Linked DNA regions of Homo sapiens: all the other regions are linked to region 6. The links come from fine-mapping of genetic effects on gene expression. A gene starts in region 6. Each other region holds a variant in brackets. All regions are shown on one strand. Distances are from middle to middle.

Region 1 (4,098 bases), 39 kb before region 6:
AGATTTAATATTAAGACGGTAATACATTCCAAAGCAATCTCTAGATTTAATGTAATTCCTATCAAAAATCTCAGCTGCTTTTTTTTTTTTTTTGAAGAAACTGATGAGTGGATCCTAAAATTCATTTGGAAATGCAAGAGATGCAGAAGAGTCAAAACAGCCTTGAAGCAGAACAAAGTAAAACTTCTCACAACAAAGCAGCACTGATCAAGGCACTGTGGCACTGGCATAAGGTTAAACAGGTCAATGGAATAGAGTCAAGTGCCCAGAAATAAGCCTGTACATTTTTGGTCAACTGATTATCAATAATGGTGCGAAGATAATTCAATGGGGAAAAATAATGTTTTCAACAAATGGTGCTGGGACAACTGGATATCCACATGCAAAAGAATGTGGGCTCTTACACCACACACAAAACTTAATTCACAATGGATCAAAGATCTACACATAAGAGCTGAAATTATAAAATGCTTATTAGAAACTAGGTGTAAATCTCTGTGATCTTGGATTAGGTGATGGCTTCTGAAATGTGACAGCAAAAGCATAAGCAACAAAAGAAAAAAACAGATAAATTGCTGTACTTCATCAAAATTAACTTTTGTGCTTCAGAGGACACTATCCAGAAAGTGAAACAACAGTATGGAAGAAAGTTTTTGCAAATCAGCTGAGTGCGGTGGCTCACACCTGTAATCCCAGCACTATGGGAGGCCGAGGTGGGTGGATCACGAGGTCAAGAGATCAAGACCATCCCAGCCAACACAGTGAAATCCCGTCTCTACTAAAAATACAAAAATTAGCTGGGCGTGGTGGTGCGCGCCTGTAGTCCCAGCTACTCAGGACGCTGACGCAGGCGAATCGCTTGAACCCAGGAGGTGGTAGTTGCAGTGAGCCGAGATCACGCCATTGCACTCCAGCCTGGCGACAGAGCAAGATTCCATTTCAAAAATAAATAAATAAATAAATAAAGTTTTTGCAAATCACATGAGGATCTAGTATCCACAGTATACATATAAACTCCTGGCCAGGAGTGGTGGCTCATGCCTGTAATCCCAACACTTTGGGAGACCGAAGCAGGAGGATCGCTTGAGGCTAGGAGTTCGAGATCACCGTGGGCAACACAGTGAGACCTCATCTCTACAAAAAATTTAAAAAATTAGCCAGGTGTTGTGGTGTGTGCCTGTAGTCCCAGCTACCTGGGAGGCTGACGTGGAAGGATGGCTTGAGCCCAGGAGTTTGAGGCTGCACTGAGCTATGATTCTGCCACTGCACTCAGCCTGGGTAAGAGCAAAAGCCCATCTCTAAAAGGAAAAACAAAAAAAACAACTGTTACAACTCAAGATAAATCATTCAATTAAAAATAGGCAAGAGGTTTGAATAGACTCCTCTCCAAAGGAGATACACAAATGGCCAGTAAGCCCACGAGAAGATGTTCGGTATCCTTCTCCAATGCTGCTGTGAACATGGGTGCACAAGCTTCCGCATGGACAGGTTTTCACCTCCTTTGTTTTATACATTGGAGGGGAACTGCATGGATAAACCTTAAAAACAACGCCAAGTGTAAGAAGCCAGGGACAAGAGGACACATGTATGAAAAGGCACATCCAGAAACAGAAAGCAGATGACTGAACGGTTCACTAGCCTTTGTGTTTGTGTTAAAAACAGCATTTGCACAAAAGTGGGTTTCCCAGAGTTCCTCTGAGTGGTCGCCTCCTGGCTGGGGAATGCACGCTCTGAAGGCTGAGCTGCACACACATTCCGTCCGTGCTGAACCCCACACCACGACAAGCACTGGTCTCACGAGGACTCGCAGAAGCCCTCTGGAACAGGGTCGCTGCCTGTGTTCACATCTCCAGGCCCGAGGGCCTCTTCTGCGAGGCCAGACCCATCACCAGACGATGCCGAACCCTGTAGCAGCAGAGCGGCCGTACCTTCAGGGCATTGCAACACACCATTTCTTTACATCAAACACAGTAATAGACAAAGCATGGTTACTGCCCAGACCCACGCCCACTCTGCTGTCCTGAGACACTGGCAGAGGGAGAAAGTGCTGATGGCCAGTGCACTGGGCCCCGCTCTCTAGTTCAGTGCGTAGTTAAACTGGTTTGAAAACTTCTCGTGCTTCTTCTGGTCCATCCGGTTCATGGCTGCCACTACCCTCCGCACAGCTGCCCTGTGGGGAAACAAGGCAAGATGTGACCTGGGAGGCTTCCGCCAGGGGCCTGGGCTCCCAGTGGCGGCATCACCAAAGTTAGGCACTGGTCCTGGGGCAACTGCTGCCCTCGGACACTGACAGACTGCCTGTGGGTGCCACCTTCAGAGACAGATGGGCGA[C/T]GGGCCCCTTGGCCCTGGCCCGAGACAGACAGGCTTAGAAAGGGCCGCCCCAGGTCCCAGAAGCGGAGTCTGCGGCGGGTGGTTCTGCGCGGTGAAGGTGGCCCCAGCCCCACCTTGGCACTTCTCCCGTGGCCTCCCGCACTCCAGGATGAGGGCAGCCTCCCCCTTGGCCTCCCGGGGAGCGGCCTCGCAGGAGATGCAGCCAGGAGGCGTCAGGACAGCCCTGCCCGCTGCTGCACGCACGGCTCCACGGCCAGGGCTGGAAACCTGGAGGGCTGCAGCAGGGGGGGCACGGGCCAGGCAGGCATTCCGGGGAGCAGGATGAGGTGTGCTGTGCTGACCAGCTCAGCTGCTGCGACCCACGAGGGTGTGGAGCTGTGGAGCCAGCAGGGCCTGAGGCCACAATGTGGTGAAGCTGCCGCTCAGCTGCGGCCCCTGTGGGGCTGCCAGGCGCTGCTGTGGGGGCCCCTCGAGGCAGGGTTTTGCCTGTGGTCACCCCAGATCCTTTCTGTAGGGAGGGGTCTGGGCCACACAGCTGTGGCGAAGAGCCAGCTCCTGCCATGGGCTTCAGTGTCCCCATGAGACACAGGGAGGAGGCCTGGCATGGGCCCACTGGCCATTCCTCCTCCTGGGCATCAGCACCAAGGCTGGCCTCTGCCCCTGGCTGATCCACGGGAAAACAGCCTCACCCTGAGCTCCAAGGGCTAAGGTGCCTTGGGTGGCTGGCATACGGGATGGGTCCAGCCCTGTGCCAGGGGCCCCAGGCAGCCTCTCCACAGCCCCCACCAGCGCCCCTGCCCCACCCAAGCAAGGCTGTGGATGTACCACCCACAAGCCTGGGGGAAGCCTGGTCTGAGTGCTGTGAAGGCGCCTCCCACCCGAGCCCACTCAGGCCGGTGCACGGTCATGCTGGCCAGGAGGGGCCTCCTCTGCCCGGTGCACTTAGCACCTTCCAGGTGTGTCCAAGGGAGGGTTTCTGGGATGGCGATGGGTGGGGGCCACCTCACTGGTGCTACCAGACAAACCTGCACCAGCAGGGACTTGACACAGATTTGGGAGGGAGTCAACAGCCTCAGGTGGCTTCTAAACAAGCATTCTGGATTTTCTTAGGCGAGAACAAGGCAATATGAAGACAGAAACACAAGGCCGTGCGAGTGGCTGGTGCCCCAGCTGACAGACTGCACGCAGGGACGCCGGGCTGGTGGGCTTCGCACTCTGGCCCTGCCAAGTCCTCACCAGTCACACAGGCCCATGCTGGGCTGCAGAGACACCAGGCCAGCCTCCCAGAGCCAGTGCTCAGAGAAGACATGCTGGGGCTGGGCTCTGCTGGGGCTGACGCGTGGACCCCCGTTCTGCCCGCCTTTGCAGTCATCGCCCTCCCTGAAGTCACCGCTGCAGAAATACGCAGGCACTGACCTGGGGGTACAGCCAGGCAAGGGAGAGACGAGGGGCTCACTCTGCACCAGCCAAGGCCTGTGTCCTGGCATGGCTCCCCCAGGAAGCGAGGATGGCGGTGCCTGGCGGTCGAGCCCCTCTTATCCTGGGGAATGCTGGGGGGCGTTCCTGAGCAGACCTGCCTGCTGCCCCTGCTGGCTGGCACTGCCCCTCCCCGGGGAAAGGCTGGGTGGTCCCCCAGGGGAACTCAAAGCAGGGGAGCCCCTGGAGGCCCCAAGTCCCTGGAATATCTTGGCGCTCAGATGGCCCCCCTCGAACACCCTCACACGGGGGGGCCACGCGGTGGGAGGTGACCCAGCAGCCACTCTTACT
Region 2 (4,000 bases), 23 kb before region 6:
CTACGAAAACAGTGACCAAAAGACAGAGGAGGTCCTATGTGGGTACTAGAAAAGCTGGATTTTAAGTAAAAAATAGGAGGGTAAAAAAAGGAATGCTTGAAGGTGTAATAAACAAGAAGAGATATGTAACTTACAAATGCAGTCTCAAAACATAAGAAGCCATGCTGAGGGCTACGGGTGCAGAGGTATCCCTGACTGTGGGGACTTCGGCGAACCCTCTTGGGAAGTGGCTGTTAGGGAAAGAATGAGCCGTATCACGGGTGGTTTGTACAGCACAGTCAAAACCACCAAACTAAGAGATGCCGTGAGATTTCCTATCTGATATGGTCTGGCTCTGTGTCCCCACTCAAATCTCATCTTATAGTTCCCATAATTCCCACACGTGGTGGGAGGGAGCTGGTGGGTCTTCCCCGTGCTGTCCCCGTGAGAGTGAATGGGTCTCACGAGATCTGACGGCTGTAAAAGCGGGAGTTTCTCCGCACAAGCCCTCTCCCTGCCTGCTGCCATCCACGTTAAGATGTGACTTGCTCCTTCTTGCCTTCCACCATGATTGTGAGGCCTCCCCAGCCATGTGGAACGCTAAGTCCAGTAAACCTCTTTCTTCTGTAAATTGCCCAGTCTCAGGTATGTCCTTATCAGCAGCAGGAAAACGGAGTAATACACTATGCAAGAAGTCCCTTCTCCAACACACACGCGGAACTGACGAAAGAAAACCAAGTACTAAGTCAACAGGGGCCTCAGTCACCTCCCAAGAATCAGCACCGCCCAGACTGTGTCCTGAGACCACAGAACAGAGCGTCAAAAACAGAGGCCACCAGAGAGCTCAGACACCCGGAAAGTCATGTACACGTCATCGATTTTACACACACACACACACACACACACACACACACACAGGTCCACCCACAGACGTACTCTCACTGAACACGGGTGAGCTGCAGAGCGTGCAGGCCTTCTTTTGTGCAGGCTTACTGAGTACATACACACACATACACGTCCACACACAAGTACTTACAGGCATGCTGTCACTGAACACACATGTGCTCACCACAGGCTTTCTGAGGACACCCACAGTGCCTCCACTTACCAATGTGCAGAGCCGGGAATGCTCTGTTTGGAGAGAAGAGCTGGGAGGAGAATGAGGAGGCATGAGAACTGGGGGTACTGCAAGGCCGCCGGGCACAGGGGCTTCCAGGGAGGGAAGTGGGTAAGGACAAAGGGCCTTGCTCAGGCCCATGACAAGCATCCCGTGAATCAAGGAGTGAGCCACCGACCCCGTCCCTGAGTTGCAGAGGAGGAAAAAGCTGCATGTCTGAAAGGGCTCACAGAACTCGGGCTGTCTGGAGCCACCTCTGACTTGGGCCACTGACTCTCTGGACAGAGGTCAGCCTGGCACATGCACCCTGTGCTCAGTAGCTGCAGGGCTCGCCAGCCTGTGGCTATGAGCCAAGTCCAGCCCACCGCCTGTTTTCGTGAATAGGGTGTTACTGGCACCCAGTCACACCCACCATCTACACGTGGAGACAAGGCCTCATGTGGCCCCCGAAGCTGGAGAGACTGCGCTCTGGCCCTTCACAGAAGGTGCCTGTCCCGCTCGGGAGCTCCTCTAAGCCGTGCACGGCTGCACGCCTGCCAGGCTGCTCCCGTTTCCTGGGTTCCCAGGGGCTGAAAGCGGAGGGTGTGAGACAGAGCCACACAGAGCAGGTGATGGGGACGGACCTCCAGCCCCGAGGCGCGCACCCGGGAGACACCGGGCAGCCCCTGCTCAGCGCTGGCACTCAATGCCGTGTCCCGGGTGTTGCTCACAAACCTGCCAAGTGCCCCTCAGTATTCCGGCAATACACATGACACAGATACGGGCTGTCAGCACACGCATGCACACACACGCACACACGCACATGCTCACAGTGACGGAGGCAAGACTGACAAGTGAACAATGTGACATTTAGATACAATCGCAGCCAAAAGATCAATCTGAGAATTCCTAAGAGTTACAAGAATGAAATATATTTTTCATCGATTTGTTGTTTTAAACCATTAAAAAGATGGGTAAGCGTGTTAAAGCAGGGTAAATACTTAGGGCACTAAACACACTCCCACTTGCGCATCGC[G/A]TGGAAAATCAATCTCTCTGACATACTTTCAAAGCAAAACCCCAAAAATCAGACAGCATTCCTCAGGCACTGAGGGCATTTTCAGGAAGAATAACGACTCCCGGAAAACAAGAGGCCACACGTCACAGCCGAACGCGGCGCCCGCCTTGCCCGCACGGCGTCTCACTCGAGTCCAGTATCTTGGCTCAAATTCACTCCCACAGTTGTTTTGAGAAAGAATCATAAAAATGTCCAAATCCCCTTTTCTGTTTACATTGGCCAAGTGGCACCTATTTGCCTGAAGCACCAAAGCAGACAGTGAGGGAGGGAATCGATGGTAGGAAACGGAGAGGGGGGCCTCTGCGCCCAGGCGGCCTGCCCAGCGCTGACATTATTGATTTTACCTAGTTCAGCTGGCCTTGTAATTAAAATGTAAATTGGAGAAAGAGATTATGTCCTGACAGAAATGGTAGGATTAAGGGGAAGATAAAGGCCCCTCAGTGAAAATTCAGAGGAAGAAATGAGAAAGAAAAAGAGCACGGTTTCCTCCGTGGTGTGGATTTAGACTAAATCTAACTACTTCAGATTCGCCCACGTTTAATTGAAAAAACAGCGGCAGAATATAAACTAGTGTTATGAACTGAGCTGGCCCCTCCGCCTGCCCCCACGCTTCCCGCCTGGTCCCCGCCTCCGGCACTCCTGGGGCCCCCGGGGTGTGAAGCTGAGTGGGGCCAGGGGTCCTCCCTGCGCACCCCAGAGGGCAGCTCTGTCACCAGGGCCTGCCCCCTCCTTTGGGCCCTCCAGCCCTCGCCTGGGGCTGGTACAGCTGGTGCTGCATGCTCGCACCCGGTCGACTCCCAGCAAGGCCGCCAAGGGTACCCAGGCCAGGCCCACAGGGCACATCGGCACCTTCAAGGCTGACGGCAGAACGGCAGAACGGCAGAACGTGGTTAGCCCTCTCACCTCAAGAAGTCAATCAGTGGCAATAAAACCACCAGGGCCTCTGCCTGCCCCAGGCAAGGCTGTGATGGAGCTCCCAGCTTCTAAGGCACCCTCCCCTCCACCGGGGCAGGTCTAAGGCACCCTCCCCTCCACCGGGGCAGGCGTGGGCCTTGAGAGGAAAGGGGCAGGCGCCATGCAGTGGAGGAGGCTTGGAGCCAGCAGAGGAGGGCGCTGTGGGGACCTGCGGCTGCAGCGAAAGAACCAGCCGCCAGTGCACCAGCTGTGCACACTTCCCTGGACCAGGACGGACCCAGCAGGGACAGCTCATCATCTGCTGAGCCTGGGGCCTGAGCTGGAGACACACATCTGGAGGTGCCTTCACAACCAGGGTCAGGCTGGGACAGCCTACGGGTGAGGCTTAGCCGGGACTGCCAAGCCCAGTGCCTACCTGTGACCCTGTGAGGCTCGGTGTACCTGCAGCAGGGCTGTGTCAGAGCAGGCGTCCCAGCACACCCGGCAGGGGCTGCGAGGCCGCTCGGCCCCCTTGGCTGGACGCTATTGTCGATGGGCTCAGGACCCCTGGGCTTCAGTGGGGAGGGGATGGCCAGGCCTGGTGACGAGTGAGCGCTGTCACCGTTGTGTTTGGCCACAGGCCCGGGGAGCCTCACCTCTTCTGATGAAAGGAGACCGCTCTGTTCTTTGGGGAAAGTCACCTCGTTTGAGTTTCGCTTCTGGCCTTGCTTCAGATAATTTAGAGCCACAAGTCAGGTTTTAGGGAAAGTGTGGATTTCTGCTTTTGAGACGCCACACGTCACCCCGTCTAAGATGTGTAACTTCTGCTGAAAAGGTTCAGAAGCCATCATAACAGGCCTGTGCAGAGGCCCAAGGCCAGGAAATGTGTGACACTACAGGCCAAGGGTCAGTGCCAGCTCCCAGACTCTGAAGATGCCCAGGAGGGGTCCGGGAGA
Region 3 (4,101 bases), 39 kb after region 6:
TCTCCCAAGGATTCGGCACTGCTTAGGAAAGACGGGAAAGATTCTTTTCGTCTGCTCTACATCTAGTGGATGGGAAGTCACAGCAGACAGCACTTCAGCTCTCCATAAATACCTGACCAGTGCAAGCGAGCTCAACGAGACCCACTGGGGAAGGCCCCCCCGAGGCCCTGACACCACAGCCCGACACCGGCCTGCAGGACTCTCCCACTGGAGACCCTATCTGAGTGTGTCCTGCCACGAGGTGGAATTTCTAAAGGACGCAAGGCATATACTCAGTCTTTGCTCTGCCTGTGCAGGCGCCTCACAAGAGCAGGACAGAAAGTCTTCGCCATTAGACCATTAGACAAAGCGGCACAACCACCCTCGCTCGCGCGGAGGAACCCACACAGCATCCGCACACCAGCACATTCCAGACCGCCACCAGAAAAGGAAAGGCCTCTCTGGACGTCCCTTAGCTGCATTCAAGTTCTACGCGGGAACGGGGCCTTTCTGGACTTTCCAACCCCTGCCGGGCCGTCCGCCTCACCGCGGTGCTGACGCTGCTCAGGCACAGGGCAGAGCTCCGGGCAGCTGGTGTGCTGCAGACAGGAACCCTTTGCTCCCAGTGCAAGGGAAAAGGCCCTGCCCAGAACGCGCCACGGTTACGCAGAACGCAGGCATGAAGGAGGCCGGGGAGGGGCTCACCGGGGCCACGGTGTCTTCACAACTGGAAGACCCCACCTCCCTGCCAGTGGCTCTCAGGGTCCACATCCAGCCGCTTACTCCTCAGGCCTCCCACGCCTCTGCGCACGCTCCTCCCACCTCCCTGCCTCTGCTCCTCCTCCAGCGCTGGCCCGGGGCTATCCAATCTGAGTTCAGGGGATGAGCGCAGCACCCCCTCTCCCTCCAGCAGGGCAGCTGCTGACCCAGACAGCAGCTCCTCCCCACATCCACGCCCCCCAGAGGAGCCAGGCCAGCCCCGGAAAGCACCGCCTCCTCTTCCGGGGGACTCAGCACGTGACTCCGGGCCCTAAAAGCTCCCCTCCACTGGCCTGGGCTGGCTGGTTAGCAAGAGCCCCTTCACAGGCTCCTTAAAGGGCATTTGGTGACCGAGTGAGTGGAATTTCAGAAATGCTAAAGACTCTAACTCGAGCCAAATTATCACTCAAGAATGAGGACAAACTGAAGTTACTTTCAGATACGCAAGGGCTGAAAGCTGAGCACACACAAACCTTCCTGGCAGAAAAACTACTCAGAAATATTGCTTAGTGATCAAACACAATAAATCCGTGGACAAAGACAATGTAAGACACAAGAAACAGCAATGCAGAGAGGGGCCAGCAGATTCTAAGACACAAGAAACAGCACTGCAGAGATGAGCCCGCAGAAGATACAGCTCGCCCAAATGAGGACAGGCAACCTCACAGACCGTATCATAGGAAGAACAGTGAAAAGGGGCAAAGCATTAAAAATAGATTCCTAATAGCACAGGCAACAGAAAGAGACAAATGGGACTACATCAAACTTAAAAACTGCAGAGCAGGAAAAACCAACAGAGTAAAAAATGGGAAAAAATAGCTGCAACCCAGGGATCTGCATATGGAGCTACTATCCAGAATGCACTTTTAAAAACGCCTACAACTCCACAACCAAAGGAAATATCCAATTTTAAAATGGGTGAAGGACTTAGACACTTGTACAGAGAAGATAAACCAATGGCCAAGCGGCACATGACAAGATGCTCCACACGACCAACCACTGCTCAGGAGACACAAGTGCAGACGTGAGGCATCACCTCGTGCCCGTTAGGACGGCGATCACTCAACACCGAAAGCTATGCCACGGCAGGAAGC[G/A]GAGCAGCGGGACACGCGTGCAGTGCCAGGGAACGTGCCCGGCGCAGCGTGTAGAGCAGCGAGGCAATTCCTCAGAACGTTAGGCACAAGGCTCCTGAGTCCCCAGTAGGCCACGAGAACTGAAGGCAGGGTCCCAGGAGGTATCTGCACACCTGTGTTCATGGCAGCCACGAGGCAGAAGCCACCCACATGTCCATCACCAGGGGAATGAAGAAAGAAAACGTGGCAGTCACACACCACATAACGACATTTTGGTCAACAACAGACCGTGCAGGTGATAGTGGTCCCATTAAGATTAGGATACTGCATTCTCACTGCACCTTTTCTATGTTTCGATGTGTTCCATGCAAAACACCACCGTGGAACAGCTGCCTGCAGTATTCAGTGCAGTGACATGCTGTACAGGTTTGCAGCCCAGGAGCCACAGGCTGTACCACGGTGCGGGCGTGCAGCAGCCACACCATCTGGCTCCTGTTAGTTCATTCCACGATGTTCACACCGCAAAGTCGCCTAACGATGCATTTCTGAGAGTTTTTCCATGTAAGTGACACATGACCGTATCTGCACAGGTAATGGTTCATTTCAGGCATCAACTTGATGGGATTTGGGATACCTAGAGAACCTGTGAAGCATTACTTCTGGGTGTGCCTGTGCGGGTGTTTCCAGAGGAGACTGGTGGGTGAGTGGGAAGATGTCCTCCAGGTAGGTGGTGCCATCCAGTCCGCTGGGGCCCAGACAGAACAAGAAAGTCAGAGGATAAGCAATTTCCTGTCCCTCCTGGAGCTGGGATCCTGCCCTTTGGCATCAGAACTCCAGGGTCTCTGGCCTTTGGATGTTGGGACTTACACCAGCATCCCCCCAGGGTTCTCAGGCCTTTGGCTTTGGACTGAGCCACGCACCAGCTTCCCAGGGTCTCTGGGGTGCAGGTCTGCTGCGGGACTCAGCCTCTGTAATCACACAAGCCAGTTCCCCAATAAATCCCCTCATCTACCTCTATATATTATGAGTTCCGTCCCCCTGGGGACAAGTAACACAATACACAGTGGAACAGTATTCAGCCTTTTAAAAGAAGGCAATCCTCTCACTCACTGTAACATGGGTGAACCTTGAAGACATTATGCTAAGTGAAATAAGTCAACCATGAAAAGACAAATCTGCTAACTCTGCTTGTATGAGGTATCTCACACAGTCCAACTCTTAGACACATAAAGCAGAATGGTGGATCCCAGGGGCTGGGGTGGGGAGGAGGCAGTTTTGTTCAATGGCTATGGAGTTTCCGGTTTGCAAGATGAGAGGGTCATGGTGATATAGATGGTATGACTGTACTGTGTGCTTACGGAACGGTGTCTACGCTATAAATGGATAAAGTGGTTGCTGTATAAAATGGTTGATGGCAAATTGTATACATATATAACAGTATCTTTTTAAATTAAAAAATGTTAACAAAAATTCTAATGAATTTTGATAAATGGCACCTGACTGCCAGACTTCTCATAAAGCTAGAGTGCTGAAGCCAGTACAGCACTGGTCTAGGAATGGATGCAGGGGTCAATACAGGGTGGGGAACCCAGAAAAAGACCCACAGGCAGGGTCCATTTACATACAGCCAAGGGGCCAAGGCAACTGAGGCGAAGGACAGTCTCTGCAACAGCCAGGACAGGGAAGGGATGGCCCTCAACCCAAACCTCACATCCCATGAAAAGTGCCTCCGAATGGATCACGGACCTAAACACAAAAGCTCAAACTGTGAAACTCCTTAGAAGGAAACAAGGGAGAAAATCTTTGCATCCTTGAGACAGGCAACAATTTCTTAGAAGGATACAAAATGTACCAACTGTAAAAGAAAAATCCATCCTCTGAACCTTATCAAAATTAAAACTTCTGCTCTTCAGAAAACAATGTAAGAAAGTTAAGAACACGAGCCATGGACTGGGAGAAGGCCTTCACAGCACAGCTGACAAAGGGCTTCCATCTGGAATACAGCCAACTCCTGCAGCCTCAGTATTACGACAAGCAAGCCCCCCAACCCACTTTTCTTTTCTTTTTTCTTGAGACACAGTCTCACTCCATCACCCAGGCTGGAGTGCAATAGCGTGATCTCGGCTCACTGCAACCTCCGCCTCCCGGGATCAAGTGATTGTCCTGCCTCAGCCTCCTGAGTAGCTAGGACTACAGGTGCCTGCCACCTCGCCCGGTTAGCAATCCCATTTTTTTAATGGGGAAAAGGTTTGAACAGGAACATCACAGAGAAGTTCTATGAAGGGCAGGT
Region 4 (4,101 bases), 44 kb before region 6:
TATCCTATCTATCTATCTATCTATCTATCTATCTATCTATCTATCTAATCTATCTATCTATCTAGTTTTGAAAGCGTCTCGCTCTGTGGCCCAGGCTGGAGTACAATGGCTTGATCCTGGCTCACTGCAACCTCTGCCTCCCGGGTTCAAGCAATTCTCCTGCCTCTGCCTCCCAAGTAGCTGGGATTACAGGTGCACACCACCACGCCCGGCTTAGACAAGTACTTTAAATCAGCTTCTACACATATGTTCAAATAACTAAAGGAAACTGTGTCTACAGAATTAAAGTATGAGAATGTTTCACTAAACAAAGAATATGAGTAAAGATACAGAAATTATAGGAGAGAGCCAAATGGAAGTTTGGAGTAGAAAAGTACAATAACTGAAATGAAAAATTCACTAGAGCAGCTTGACATCAGGTTTTGTTTGGCAAAAGCATCTGTGACCTTGAAGATAGGTCAACTGAGATGACCCATTCTGAGAAGAAGAAAAAATTCCGGAATAAAGGAAAGTCAAGGAGGCCTCCAAGGCTGTGCCCAGCTCCACATCAACACACGTAGCTGGAGTCCAAGTGGGGGAAGAGAACATGGACATAAAATATTTCGAGAAACGACAACCTAAAATTTCCCAAATTTGCAGAACCACAATGGAGCGCTGAAGGCATACTCACCACACATCAACTGTGTGTCAGCAGAACCATGAGAGTTACTGGTGCAAAGCACTTAAAGGGGTCCCCTGTCCAGTCACTGGCTGAACATGAAGCTGACAAAACCGAAGGATTCAATACCCACATTCAATATCAATATAACTAGGCAGAAGATCAATAAGTGAAGAGAAGATGTAAACAATCAGACTACAAGAAATATTAACCTCTATATCCAAGAAGCTCAAAGAACTGCAGGTAGGACACACTGAAAGATCCACAATTAGACACACCACAGTCAAACAGTCAGAAGCTAAAAAGAGACTGAGACATGGTGCGGTGCTCCCGCCATGGAAACCACAGATGCCAGAGGCAGTGGAATGACATCTATAGAGGACTGAAAGAAAAAGAGGGCCAACCAAGTCAGCCATATCCAGCACAATTATTCTTCAGAAGAGAAGGAAAAATTACAACATTCTCAGATAAACAAAAACAAAGAGAATTCATTGCTAGAAGATCTGTCCTACAAGAAATACTTGAGGCTGAAGTCCAAGACACCACACTCAAATCCACACAAAGAGCACCAAAAAAGACAACTGCAAAGCCAGCAACAGAGACAGCAGAAACTCATTTCTGTTTGTACATCTTTTCTTCTTCTATGTGATTTAAAAGACAACTGCATAAAGCAATAATTACAAGACTGCTGACGGACTTACAATCTAAAAGGTAGCATTTATATGACAAATACAGCACCAAGAAGCTGAGAGGAAACAAAGCTACTTGAAGTGAAGGTTTTTGTACATTATATTAAGTTCATCTGAACACTTGATTGGTTTTACGTTGTTACTGTAATACTCAGAGCAGCTGCTAAGAAAGTTACTTTTAAAAAAACCCAGTAAAACAGACAAGGAAATTACAATGTTACAAGAGAATTAAATGTCCATTTAACACAAAAAAGTAATGGAGAAATAAAGGAAGAAAGACAAAAAAGACAATATAGTAAACAAATTTAGAAATGGCAGATACAAATCCAACTTTCTCAGTAATCACACTGAATGTAAATGGATTAAACATCCCTCTCAAACAGCAGAGACCAGCAGGACAGATGAAAAACATGATCCCACTATGTGCTGTCTACAAGAAACACACTTTTGATTCAGAGCAGAGACCAGAAAGACAGATGAGAAACACTATCCTACTATATGCTGTTTACAAGAAACACACTTTAGATTCACGGCAGAGACCAGCAGGACAGATAAGAAACA[T/C]GATCCCACTATATGCTGTTTACAAGAAACACACTTTAGATTCAGAGATACAATGAAAGTTAAAGGGTGAAAAAAGATACCATGCAAACAATAATCAAAAAAGAGCTAAGTGGCTATACTAATAACATACAAAAGGGACTTAAAGACATTTTTTTTTCACTAAAGACAAAGAAGGACATGTCATAATGATAAAAGGGTCTGTTCATCAGAAAGAAATAGAAATACAGATGCACTTAACAGAGCTTCAAAATTTATGAAACAAAAGCTGACAAAACTGAAGGATTCAATACCTCACATTCAATATCAATATAACTGGGCAGAAGATCAATAAGGGAAGAGAAGACATAAACAATCAGACTACAAACCAATCAGACCTAACAGGCTTCTATACAACACTACAAACCAATCAGACCCAACAGGCTTCTATACAACACTACAAACCAACCTCTGACCCAACAGGCATCTATACAACACACACACCAACCTCTGACCCAACAGGCATCTATACAACACTACAAACCAACCTCTGACCCAACAGGCATCTATACAACACTAGAAACCAATCAGACCCAACAGGCATCCATATAACACTACAAACCAATCAGACCCAACATGCATCTATACAACCCTACAAACCAATCAGACCCAGCAGGCATCTATACAACACTACAAACCAACCTCTGACCCAACAGGCTTCTATGCAACACTACAAACCAATGAGACCCAACACACATCTATACAACTCTACAAACCAATCAGACCCAACAGGCATCTATACAACACTACAAACCAATCAGACCCAACAGGCATCTATACAACACTACAAACCAACCTCTGACCCAACAGGCATCTATACAACACTACAAACCAATCAGACCCAACAGGCATCTATACAACACTACAAACCAACCTCTGACCCAACAGGTGTCTATACAACACTACAAACCAATCAGACCCAACAGGCATCTATACAACACTCCACCCAACAAGAGCAGGATAGATATTCTTCAACACTCTGGGACAGAAAATACGGTATGCCAATAAAATAACTCTCAATACATATAAAAGACGAGAAATCATACAATCTATGTTTTTTAGCCATAATGGAGTGAAATAAGAAATCAGTAACAGGCCAGGTATGGTAGCTCATGCTTGTAATCCCAGCACTTTGGGAGGCAAAAGTGGCAGGATCACTTGAGCCCAGGAGTTCCAACACAGCCTGGGCAACATAGTCGGACCCTGTCTCTACAACAAAATTTTTAAAAATTTAGCCAGGCTTGGTGGCTCATGCCTGTAGTCTCAGCTACTCAGGAGGCTGAGGTGGGAGGTCAAGGCTGCAGTGAGCTGCGATCACTGCACTGCACTCCAGCCTGGGAGATAAAGTGAGATCTTGTCTCTCAAAAATAAGAAAAGAAGTCAATAACAGAAGGAAACCTGGGAAATTCACATATATGTGGAAATTAAACAACAAACTCTTAAATAACCAAGAGATAAAAGAAGAAATCACCAGAAAAATCAGAATATACTTTTAGATTTAAAAAAGGGAAAACACAATATAGCAGAACTTAAGGGATGAAGTAAATCAGTGCTGAGATAAAAATTTATAGCTACAAATGTCTATATGAAAAAGATTTCAAATCAGTAAGCTAATTTTCCATCTTAAGAAACAAGAAAAAGAAGAGAAAATAAAACCCAAAGCAACCCAAAGGAAATAATAAAGATTACAGTGGAAATTAACAAAATAAAGAATGGAAAATCATAGGGGATAATAAACAAAACCAGAAGTTGTTTCTTTAAATAGATCAACAAAATTGATAAATCTTTAGCTAGACTAAGGGGAGTAAAAGAGAGAAGAATCAAATTACTAAAACCAGAAAATACTATGAATAGGCTGGGAGCATTGGCTAACATCCACAATCCCAGCACTTTGAGAGGTCAAGGTGGGAGGGTCACTTGAGGCCAGGAGTTTGACAAAGATCAGCCTGGACAACACAGCAAGATCCTGTCTCCACAAAAAAATTTTAAAGAAAATTAGGGCTGGGTGTGGTGGCTCATGCCTGTAATCCCAGCACTTTGCTAGGCTAAGACAGGAAAATTTCTTGAGGCCAGGAGTTTGAGACCAGCCTAGCCAACATAGTGAGACCCCATCTCTACCAAAAATAAGCTTTTAAAAAATTAGCCAGTCATACTGCC
Region 5 (4,101 bases), 53 kb before region 6:
TGCTCCCCACCCCTGCAGCCTGCTCCGGTCCCACTCCCCTGCCCCACAGCCCCGCAAGGGAGCACCGGGCTAGGCGTGTCAGCTTGGGGGCGGTGTCAGCTTCGGCTACTGCCTGGAGGAAGAAGCGCCTGCCTGTTTTCCCCGGGGAGAAGGGGCTGCCTGGGCTCAGCTACCTGCCCAAGAGCGTCCCAGCCCATTCAGACCCAGGCCCCCAAAAGTCGGGTCGAGTGCTCCCTCTTGGAGCTGCCACCTCTCCTCCAACGACGCTGGAAACAGTCCCTACATCCCCTCACAGGCTCTCGGAGTCCTGTGGGTTTGGTGTTCGCCTGAGCTGGGCTCAGGGAGGTGAGAGGCAGAGGCGCTTGGGCTGGGCGGCAGTGTGGATGCAAAAGCTGGTGCTTGGAAGCGGGGAAGGGCGACGGGAGGAGGGTTCAGAGCCCCAGAAAGGGTGGGGAGGCGGCATGAGACACTGGCCACAGCCGGGCAGGTGCTGCCCCTCTTCTGCCACTGGCGGGAGTCCTGAGTCCTGCCTCACAGAGGGAGCTTGGCTCTGCCTGGCGGCTGTGCCCTGACTGGGCCCAGTCTCCTGGTGTCCTGTCCATTTTCCGTGAGTGGGCTGAGCTCATCTCTGGGCTGTCAACCTGACAGCAACCACTGGGGGAGGGCTGGGGGCAGGTGGCGGCAGTGAATACCCAGTGCCACAGGCAAGATGGGAGACACTGCTGCCCACTGGCCTGGCCAGCACCTGTGGACAGAGAGCAGGCCCAGAGCAGCACCGGCCATCGGGCAGGTTGAGGGGGCGGGGCGCAGGGGCGGCTGGGATCACCCTGTGTGTTTGCTGCCCCCACACCCCAAGCCCCAGGCAGGCCTTGGTTCCTCCAGCCAAGGGCCGGCCTGACTCCCAGTTGCTCTCTGCTCCCTTTCTGGGTCCGCATAGGTGAAGTCACCTGCCTGCAGCAAGCGTCCTGAGGCTCACCAGCCCGGGGGCAGGGCAGCCTCTCCCTCCTCCCTCCTCCCTCCTCCCTCCTCCCTCCGCTGGCAGAGCTCAGACTTGCTCGGTGGGGGTCCATGAGGGAAGGCGAGCCACCTGCAGGTGGCCAAGTGTAGCCAGAGGGTCGACTCACAGCTGAAGCCAGTGCAGCGGGCTTGGCCTAAGCTGGGCACTGGGGCTGCTGAGTGGGAAAGCAGCTGCTGCGTGGCCAGGAGGAACCCAGGTCTGTGCTGCAAGGGCCTTCCCCTTTGCTGAGCTTGCTGGAACATTCCAGGAGCTCACAGCCCCACAGGGAGATGATAGAAGGTGGCTGCGACGGTGCAGGCCAGATTCAGACCCACTCAGAGCCGGGCCAGACCGCTGTGTGCAGCCCTCCCATGGAGCTTAGATCCTGGCTCCCCGTCCCTCCAGCTTCCACATGCCCCCACCCTGGCCTCCTCTGTCTCCTCCCCTCAAGCCTCAGCCAGAAACACAGAGCCACACCGGAGGGCCCTCTAGCAGTGCCCCTGGGCTGCAGGATGGGATGGAGGGTATGGGCCGGGGGCTGTGAGGTCTGGGAAGCAATACCCCCCTCCTTGCACCACCCCTTCTCTAAGCTCCCTGGACAGCCCACAGCCTCATGCTGCAGGCATGGGGGGCATTTCCTCCAGTCTCTGATTCACAGTCACTCTGCAGCGGACCCTCGTCGGAGTCGGACTGCGTGCAAAGCCACCTGAGCCTCCCACTGTGCTTTGCTGAGAGTCACATGTGGGAAACTGAGGCCCGGCAGTCATGGGGCTTGCTGGGGGCAGTGCCAGCTCTGGTGCCAGTGGGTGCCCTGCTCCCTCCTGAAGGAGCCTCCACTTTTTAGCCCACACTCCTACTGGGTCCCCAGGCCCCCAGTCTCCCTGGGAGAGTTGGGGAGCCATTCCCTTGCCTGCCTCCCAGGGAGCCCTCGGGCTGCCCCACCACCCCCATTTCCACCAGGTTTGGGCCTCCCCTGCCCGCCATTTCCAGTCTAGGCTGCCTGTGCCTGACTCAGTTTCAGCTCCCTGGGCCTGTGCTGCAGGCAGAGGTGAGCGGGAGCCTTGTTAGGGGTCTCAACGTGTCCCCCACTTTGGTGTCAGGGCCGTGA[G/A]GGAAGGTCTCAACCTCAGGATCTGAGGGCACTCTTCCATGGACCCTCCTCCTAGGGCTCAGGACCCATCTTGCCCTGGACCACACCTGCCCCAAGTTCCCAGAACCACACACATGTCGTTGCTGCAAAGCCAGGCACAGAAGGGGCCTCTTGTCAAGCGAGCATGAGCCCAGACAAGGGCGGCGTTTGCTCTCACGCCCTGGGCTCCCGTCTCCTGCCCAGGGACCGCTGAGCCCAGACGGTAAGGGGCCTCCCATTGAGGCCACCTCCCCACCCCCACCAGCCGATGGTGCTGTGGTCCATTGCTGTGTGGGTCAGGCCTGGGTTTGGCTGCGTGTAAGAGAAAACCTGAATGAAGAGAGTTGAAAGGAGACTGTTTACTTTCTCTTTGTGAGGGAATTCTGGCCGTGGCAGCCCTGGGCAGTTTTGAGACCTTCACTGAGTCCTTGGAGACCCAGCTCCTGGCTCTCTGTGCTGCATCAGGCCTGGACGGGCCTCAGCCTCACAGAACCCAATGGAAACTGAGGCTCCAGCCACCACATCCTCACCCCCGGCTGCAAACAGGAAGAAAGGGAGTGGCCAGCAACACCCCTCTCTTTTAAGGAGCTTTCCCGGAAGCCCACACAACACAGCTGCTTATGTCCCATTGGCCAGAGCTGGGTCACGGGCCCTCTCTTAGCCAAGGGAGGCTGGGAAGTGCAGTCTCCCCCCAGGCATCTCACTCCTAGTGAAAGGTGAGGATGGATTGGGGCCACCGGCTGCCCCTGCCGAGCCCCCCTGTGCTCCCCACCCATGCCCACCTGCCCACACCCCCAGCCCCAGGCAGCTGGGCTTCTGAAGAAAGTCGCCCTCAGCCCGCCTGGTCTTTTCCGAAGCCCAGGGCCTCGACCTTGGTGGGCACCCAGCTCCTACACCCTAAGGTGTCTGGTGTACCCTCTCCATAACCCCACCCTGGGTTGGCCACAGGTCCAAGCCCATCTTCCAGCCATAGGATCTTGTCACCTGCCTGCGTCCTGCCAGGGGAGACAGCCCCTGCTGGGCTTCAGATGCGTCCAGTGTCTCCAGGCTTAGGCATAACCCTCCCTGGACCCCGTGTGGCCTCCAGCTCTCCCCCTTTCCTCCCAGCCTCCAGCCAAAGTATCGAAAGAGCCGTCTACACCTGCTGTCTACACTTCCTCCTCACTTCTCCACCCCTAAGGAGGCTCTCGCCGTCACTCGGGCCCTTGGCTGCCCCATCCTGGCGTGGCCTCCTCAGCCCCCTGCTCACTTGGTGGCTGGTTCCTCCTGCTCCGAGTCCTGGGCAGCCTGGGCTTGGGGAACCCTCATCCTCCACTTGCCTTCCTGCCATGGCAATGGTGTGCCTGGCCCTGTCCTTGCCCCGCGATGTCCTGGCAATGGTGTGCTTCTCCCTGTCCTTGCCCCGCAGTGTCCTGGTAATGGTGTGCCTCGCCCTGTCCTTGCCCTGCGATGTCCCCCCGGGGGCCAGGGGCCCTCCAGGCACCACAAAGCCAGACCAAGCTCCTCCCAGACCAAGCCAGCCCCACAGCCTCAGAGCAAACCCCAGGCACCAAGCACCCTCCCCACATCCAACCCAATCTACCCATATCCAGATGCCCGAAAACACCCTGCATCCAACCTGATCTACCCACATCCAGATGCCCGAAAACACCCGGCATCCAACCTGATCTACTCACATCCAGATGCCCGAAAACACCCTGCATCCAACCTGATCTACCCACATCCAGATGCCCGAAAACACCCGGCATCCAACCTGATCTACCCACATCCAGATGCCCGAAAACACCCGGCATCCAACCTGATCTACCCACATCCAGATGCCCGAAAACACCCGGCATCCAACCTGATCTACTCACATCCAGATGCCCGAAAACACCCTGCATCCAACCTGATCTACCCACATCCAGATGCCCGAAAACACCCGGCATCCAACCTGATCTACTCACATCCAGATGCCCGAAAACACCCTGCATCCAAC
Region 6 (4,094 bases):
AAAATACTTGGTGAAATGTGAAAATCATATACACTTCAAATGTCGGTGTTCATTCACAAAGTGTCATTGGAACGTCGCCCATCTATCCACCTACATCATCTACAGCTGTGTTCACAACTGAGGCATTACAGCAAAGCCTGAAACACAAACCATCTGGCTCTTTAAACACACGTTACCTAGCGCAACACACACCGCCCGGCACAAACGCCCACCGCCCGGCACAAACGCCAACCGCCCGGCACAAACACACACCGCCTGGCACAAACCGCACACCGCCCGGCACAACGCACACCGCCCGGCACAAACACACACCGCCTGGCACAACGCACACCGCCCAGCACGCACACTGTTTCAGCTGGGTGCCTCCTGCTGCAGGAAGGAAGGAAGGCCTAGAGCTCGGGACATCTCCCAGCCCCTCCTGAATGCTCCTATTCCCAGCTCCTGACCCCACATAAACCATTGCGAATTCGATTTCCTGGCGCAGGCCACAAAACCTGACCTGAAATTTTCTATCAAAATGTCAACACTCCATCACTGTATAAACAATCTATAAACTGCCATTTTACAAACACAGGATACAGAATAATCAGTGTCCTCGACTTATGCTCCACCCTCCGAGGGGAAGTTTTGCTTCCCCCATGAATCTCTGGCTGCCTGAGGGTGACGGCAGAGATCCCCTCCGGCGTTTTCCTTGGAGGAAGTGAACAGAGGTGGACATACCCTAAAGGCGATGGACCAACTCGCCCATCAGCAAGCTCTATTCTTTCCCTTCGAAAAGTCCAGCAGCAAAGAAAAAGATGCACGTTTCTCTCTGAATCACATTTGTGCACTCAAGAACTCCTACAGGATGTGCTCCAGACCACACAAATGGGAATGAAGAGAAGCACCAACCACAGAGCAGTGGGGTCCCCAACGCCACACGCCCCGACCCCAGAACATGACCACCCGTCAGAGCCGGGTACTGCAGGGCCCCGAGAAAATGTCCTGGGTGTGTCCCTCGGGTGGTTCTCTCCCAGGTGGGGGCAGGAGGGCAGGGCCCTGTGTGTGTCCTGGGCTCAGTGGGCCAGTCAGTTACTGTTACTGAACCCTAAGACATACTTGCAAATTTTCTTCAGTTCCTTCATTTTCTCAGGATTTAGTCGGGGTTCTCCTGAAGTTGTGAGCTCTTCTACCAACTTCGAAAGTTTCTGATCCATATCTAGAAATAAGTAAGGCAGAGATGCTATATCACCATCTGTATTTTATAGCTCTCGGTGTTATTAACGTGTTTACTGGGTTCCACTATAAACCGAAAGCTCCGGGAGGACCCTGAGGCTGGGGTCCATCTGTGGGTGCCTCTCTGGGAAATATGTGTGTCCAGCAAGGCCTTTACGGCGGTGATTGCAGTTTTAAAAGTGAACCTTAAACTCGGGACCTCTACAATCCCGTGTGTGGGACGCTGCATTGAGGGTCGTGCGTTAAAGGAACCAGTGGCGCTGTCCGAATCAGCTTTTCCCCAACGTGACTGTTGCTGTTTCCCTTATTCACTCAGATTCCGCAGGGCAGCCTCCAGCAAGGCTGCAGAGGCCAAGAGGAGCCAAGAAATTCTGAGACCAATGAAAAGTCGCGTCCGGAGAGCAGGGGCGGCCCTAACGGAGGCAGCCTGCCCGGATACCCAGGGCCGAGCACCGCGGCGTGCCTGGTGGGATGAGGCGAGGGCCTGCCGCACCGCCAGGGAAAGGCCGAAGGACCCGGAAGGAAGCGCCAGGCGAGGCCGGGGCGGAGGCTGGGAAGCTGCGCCCTACTCGGGGAAAGAAGGGGCCCGGCAGGGCCACGCGAGGCTTGGACCGCGGGGTCGCTCTCGCACAGCGGCTGCACCGGGCGGGCGCGCCGGCTTCGACGGTGCTCGGGGGGCTGCGGCCTGTCACTCGGCCCAGGGCCCGCCCTCCGGCCCCGCCGCCGGCGCTCTCGGGCACACGGGACACGCCCTGGCCGCAGGTCTCTGCCCGGCGCCCGCAGAGCCCCGGGGACCGAACCGGCGCGACCCCCGCCCGGCAGCGTAACCACAGCCCCACCTACCGCTGACGCGGCCGCTCGCCTCGCCCCGCCCCTTCCGGCGGGGGGACCGCCCCTCTTGTCAGGTGCCCAAGACCTCTACCGCCATTGGCTGGCCCTGGGCCGGACGCATCAGGACCTGGGGTCACCACAGCGACGACTGCACCTACCGCTCGACGCGGCCTTTCTCGCCGTTGCCCCACCCTTTCCGGTCAAGGCCCCGCCCCCTAGCACGTGCCCTGAGCTCGACAGCCAATGGCTCACCCCAGCCCAGGAGGCGCAGGCGCAAAGACGCGGCCGAGGTCTGCGCGGTGACGTAGGCGCGCTCCCGGCGAGGGCGAGGCAGGCTGCCGGGGGTGGGGAGGGGGACGCACGAGAAAAAAGAGGCGGGAGGGCGCAGAAAGTCCTTAAAGGGGCCGCATGTACGGGCGCCGGGGGCGGGGCCGGCCGGGAAACTGAGGCCGAAAGGAAGTTCCGGTCTGGGCCTCAACGCCACGCCCGCCCGCGGGCTCGCAGCCAGGTCCCTTCACCTGCAGAGGGCCGGTGAGGACCGCCCAGACGGGCGGGCGCGGGCCCCCGCCCCCGAGCTCGCCCCGCGCAGGGCGCCCTGAACCCCGCGGCGCCTCCCCGCTCCGGCCTCGGGAAGGGAATCCCTGGGCGGGCTTGGGGGTCTTCGGGGCCCACCTCGGCGCCAGACGCACAGCAGGTACCCCTGGGCCCGGGCTGGCCCTGGGCGGAATGAGAAGCAGAGGCGCCGTCCGTCCTGCCGCCGAAGTCCGCAGCCTCGAACGCAGGGGAGTGCGAGGTCGGCTGCGGACGGACGGACCTGGAGACCGCGCTTGGGAAACCGTGGCTTCGGAGGAGCGTGGTGTGGACCCCACTCGCGGGGCGCCCGGCACAGGCCACGCAGAGCAGACGCCCGACTGGGCTCCCGGGGCTGGGTGCAGGGCGGGGGCCGCCGGCGGCGGGCCGGGGTTTCTTTTTCGGGGGGATGGGCGTGCCCTTGCATTACGGTGGTGGTAGCTCACAACTCTGTTAATCGTGTTTTTACAGGGTGGGTTTCAGGATGTGTGAGTTATATCTCAGTAAAGCAATTATTTTAAAAAGGAAAAGAAGAGGGACTCCCTGCGCCGCCCCTCTCTGCAGCACCAGCTTCTGTCCCTGGGCGTCAGTGGCTCCCAGCTCCTAGCTTGCAGCCAGCCCCGAGCCGCTCCTCCGCCTCACCCCTTCCTCACCCTGCCTCTTGCTTCACTGAGCAAGCTGCAGCCAGACCCTCCCTCAGCGCCCCTTGCCCTGTGCATCCAATCCCCGGCCTGTGGCTTCCTCCAAGGCACCCATCCAGCAGTTTCCCTCTGTCTTCTACAGCGTGGTTTTTTTTGTTGTTACTAGTTCTCATTAGTATAAAAGGGTGCCGTTTCTCCCATACTAACAAAACCCTCTCTTTATCCAACTTTTCTTACCAATTGCTAAGTCCAGTCTCCTTTACACTGCCCCGGGGTGTCCTCTCAGCCCTCAGGCTCAACAGCACAGCCAAGCTGCCCGTCCACTGCCCTCTGTATCCGCTGATGGCCCTGCAGCCTTTTTTTTTTTTTTTTTTTTTTTTTTTTTTGAGACAAAGTCTCGCTTTGTCACCCAGGCTGGAGTGCAGTGGCACGATCGCGGTTCACTGCAGCCTCCGCCTCCCGGGTTCAAACGATTCTCCTGCCTCAGCCTCCCGAGTAGCTGGGATGACAGTCACCCGCCACCACGCCCAGCTCATTTTTGAATTTTTAGTAGAGACGGGGTTTCACCATGTTGGTCAGGCTGGTCTCGAACTCCTGACTTCAGGTGATCCGCCCGCCTCGGCCTCCCAAAGTGCTGGGATTACAGGCGTGAGCCACCGTGCCTGGGCCACCGTGCCTGGGCCTGCCCTGCATCCTTCTGTTCGCTTGGACCAATTATCTGACTCACTTGGGCTTCTCTCTTCCTCTCACTCCATGCCCATTTGGTTTGCAAATCCTGACAGCCCTACCTTCAGAACACATCCAGATCTGAGCACGTCCCACTGCCTCATTGCCACT

What was found. PIP is the estimated chance that this variant, and not a neighbour inherited with it, causes the effect. A credible set is the group of variants that fine-mapping cannot tell apart.
Region 1: its variant is the best candidate, but not a certain one, in a credible set for the expression of UVSSA in lung (GTEx, PIP 0.56).
Region 2: its variant is the best candidate, but not a certain one, in a credible set for the expression of UVSSA in sun-exposed skin (GTEx, PIP 0.71).
Region 3: its variant is the best candidate, but not a certain one, in a credible set for the expression of UVSSA in gastroesophageal junction (GTEx, PIP 0.59).
Region 4: its variant is the best candidate, but not a certain one, in a credible set for the expression of UVSSA in monocytes (BLUEPRINT, PIP 0.90).
Region 5: its variant is the best candidate, but not a certain one, in a credible set for the expression of UVSSA in T cells (TOPMed, PIP 0.56).

The regions. Positions count from the first base shown.
Region 1 is chr4:1,383,940-1,388,037 of GRCh38, reverse strand. UVSSA (UV stimulated scaffold protein A) reads right to left here. Exons shown (of 14, transcript NM_020894.4): 13 at 4,098; 14 at 1-2,170. The coding sequence ends at 2,077. Among named protein-coding and RNA genes, the nearest start is that of NKX1-1, 20 kb to the left of the region's middle. The variant C/T (reference allele first, on the strand shown) is at 2,332.
Region 2 is chr4:1,368,153-1,372,152 of GRCh38, reverse strand. The region is part of intron 8 of UVSSA (UV stimulated scaffold protein A); the gene reads right to left. Among named protein-coding and RNA genes, the nearest start is that of UVSSA, 23 kb to the right of the region's middle. The variant G/A (reference allele first, on the strand shown) is at 2,112.
Region 3 is chr4:1,306,296-1,310,396 of GRCh38, reverse strand. The region is part of intron 1 of MAEA (macrophage erythroblast attacher, E3 ubiquitin ligase); the gene reads right to left. Among named protein-coding and RNA genes, the nearest start is that of MAEA, 18 kb to the right of the region's middle. RefSeq lists enhancers at 1-584, 1,482-2,379. The variant G/A (reference allele first, on the strand shown) is at 1,833.
Region 4 is chr4:1,389,521-1,393,621 of GRCh38, reverse strand. It overlaps a transcript of UVSSA not described here. Among named protein-coding and RNA genes, the nearest start is that of NKX1-1, 15 kb to the left of the region's middle. The variant T/C (reference allele first, on the strand shown) is at 1,909.
Region 5 is chr4:1,398,248-1,402,348 of GRCh38, reverse strand. No RefSeq gene overlaps it. Among named protein-coding and RNA genes, the nearest start is that of NKX1-1, 6.1 kb to the left of the region's middle. The variant G/A (reference allele first, on the strand shown) is at 2,106.
Region 6 is chr4:1,345,194-1,349,287 of GRCh38, reverse strand. UVSSA (UV stimulated scaffold protein A) reads right to left here and starts at 2,080. Exons shown (of 14, transcript NM_020894.4): 1 at 1,528-2,080; 2 at 1,099-1,198. The coding sequence starts at 1,196. RefSeq lists enhancers at 1,392-1,471, 3,317-3,839, 3,840-4,094 and silencers at 1,702-2,141, 2,382-2,711, 2,932-3,021.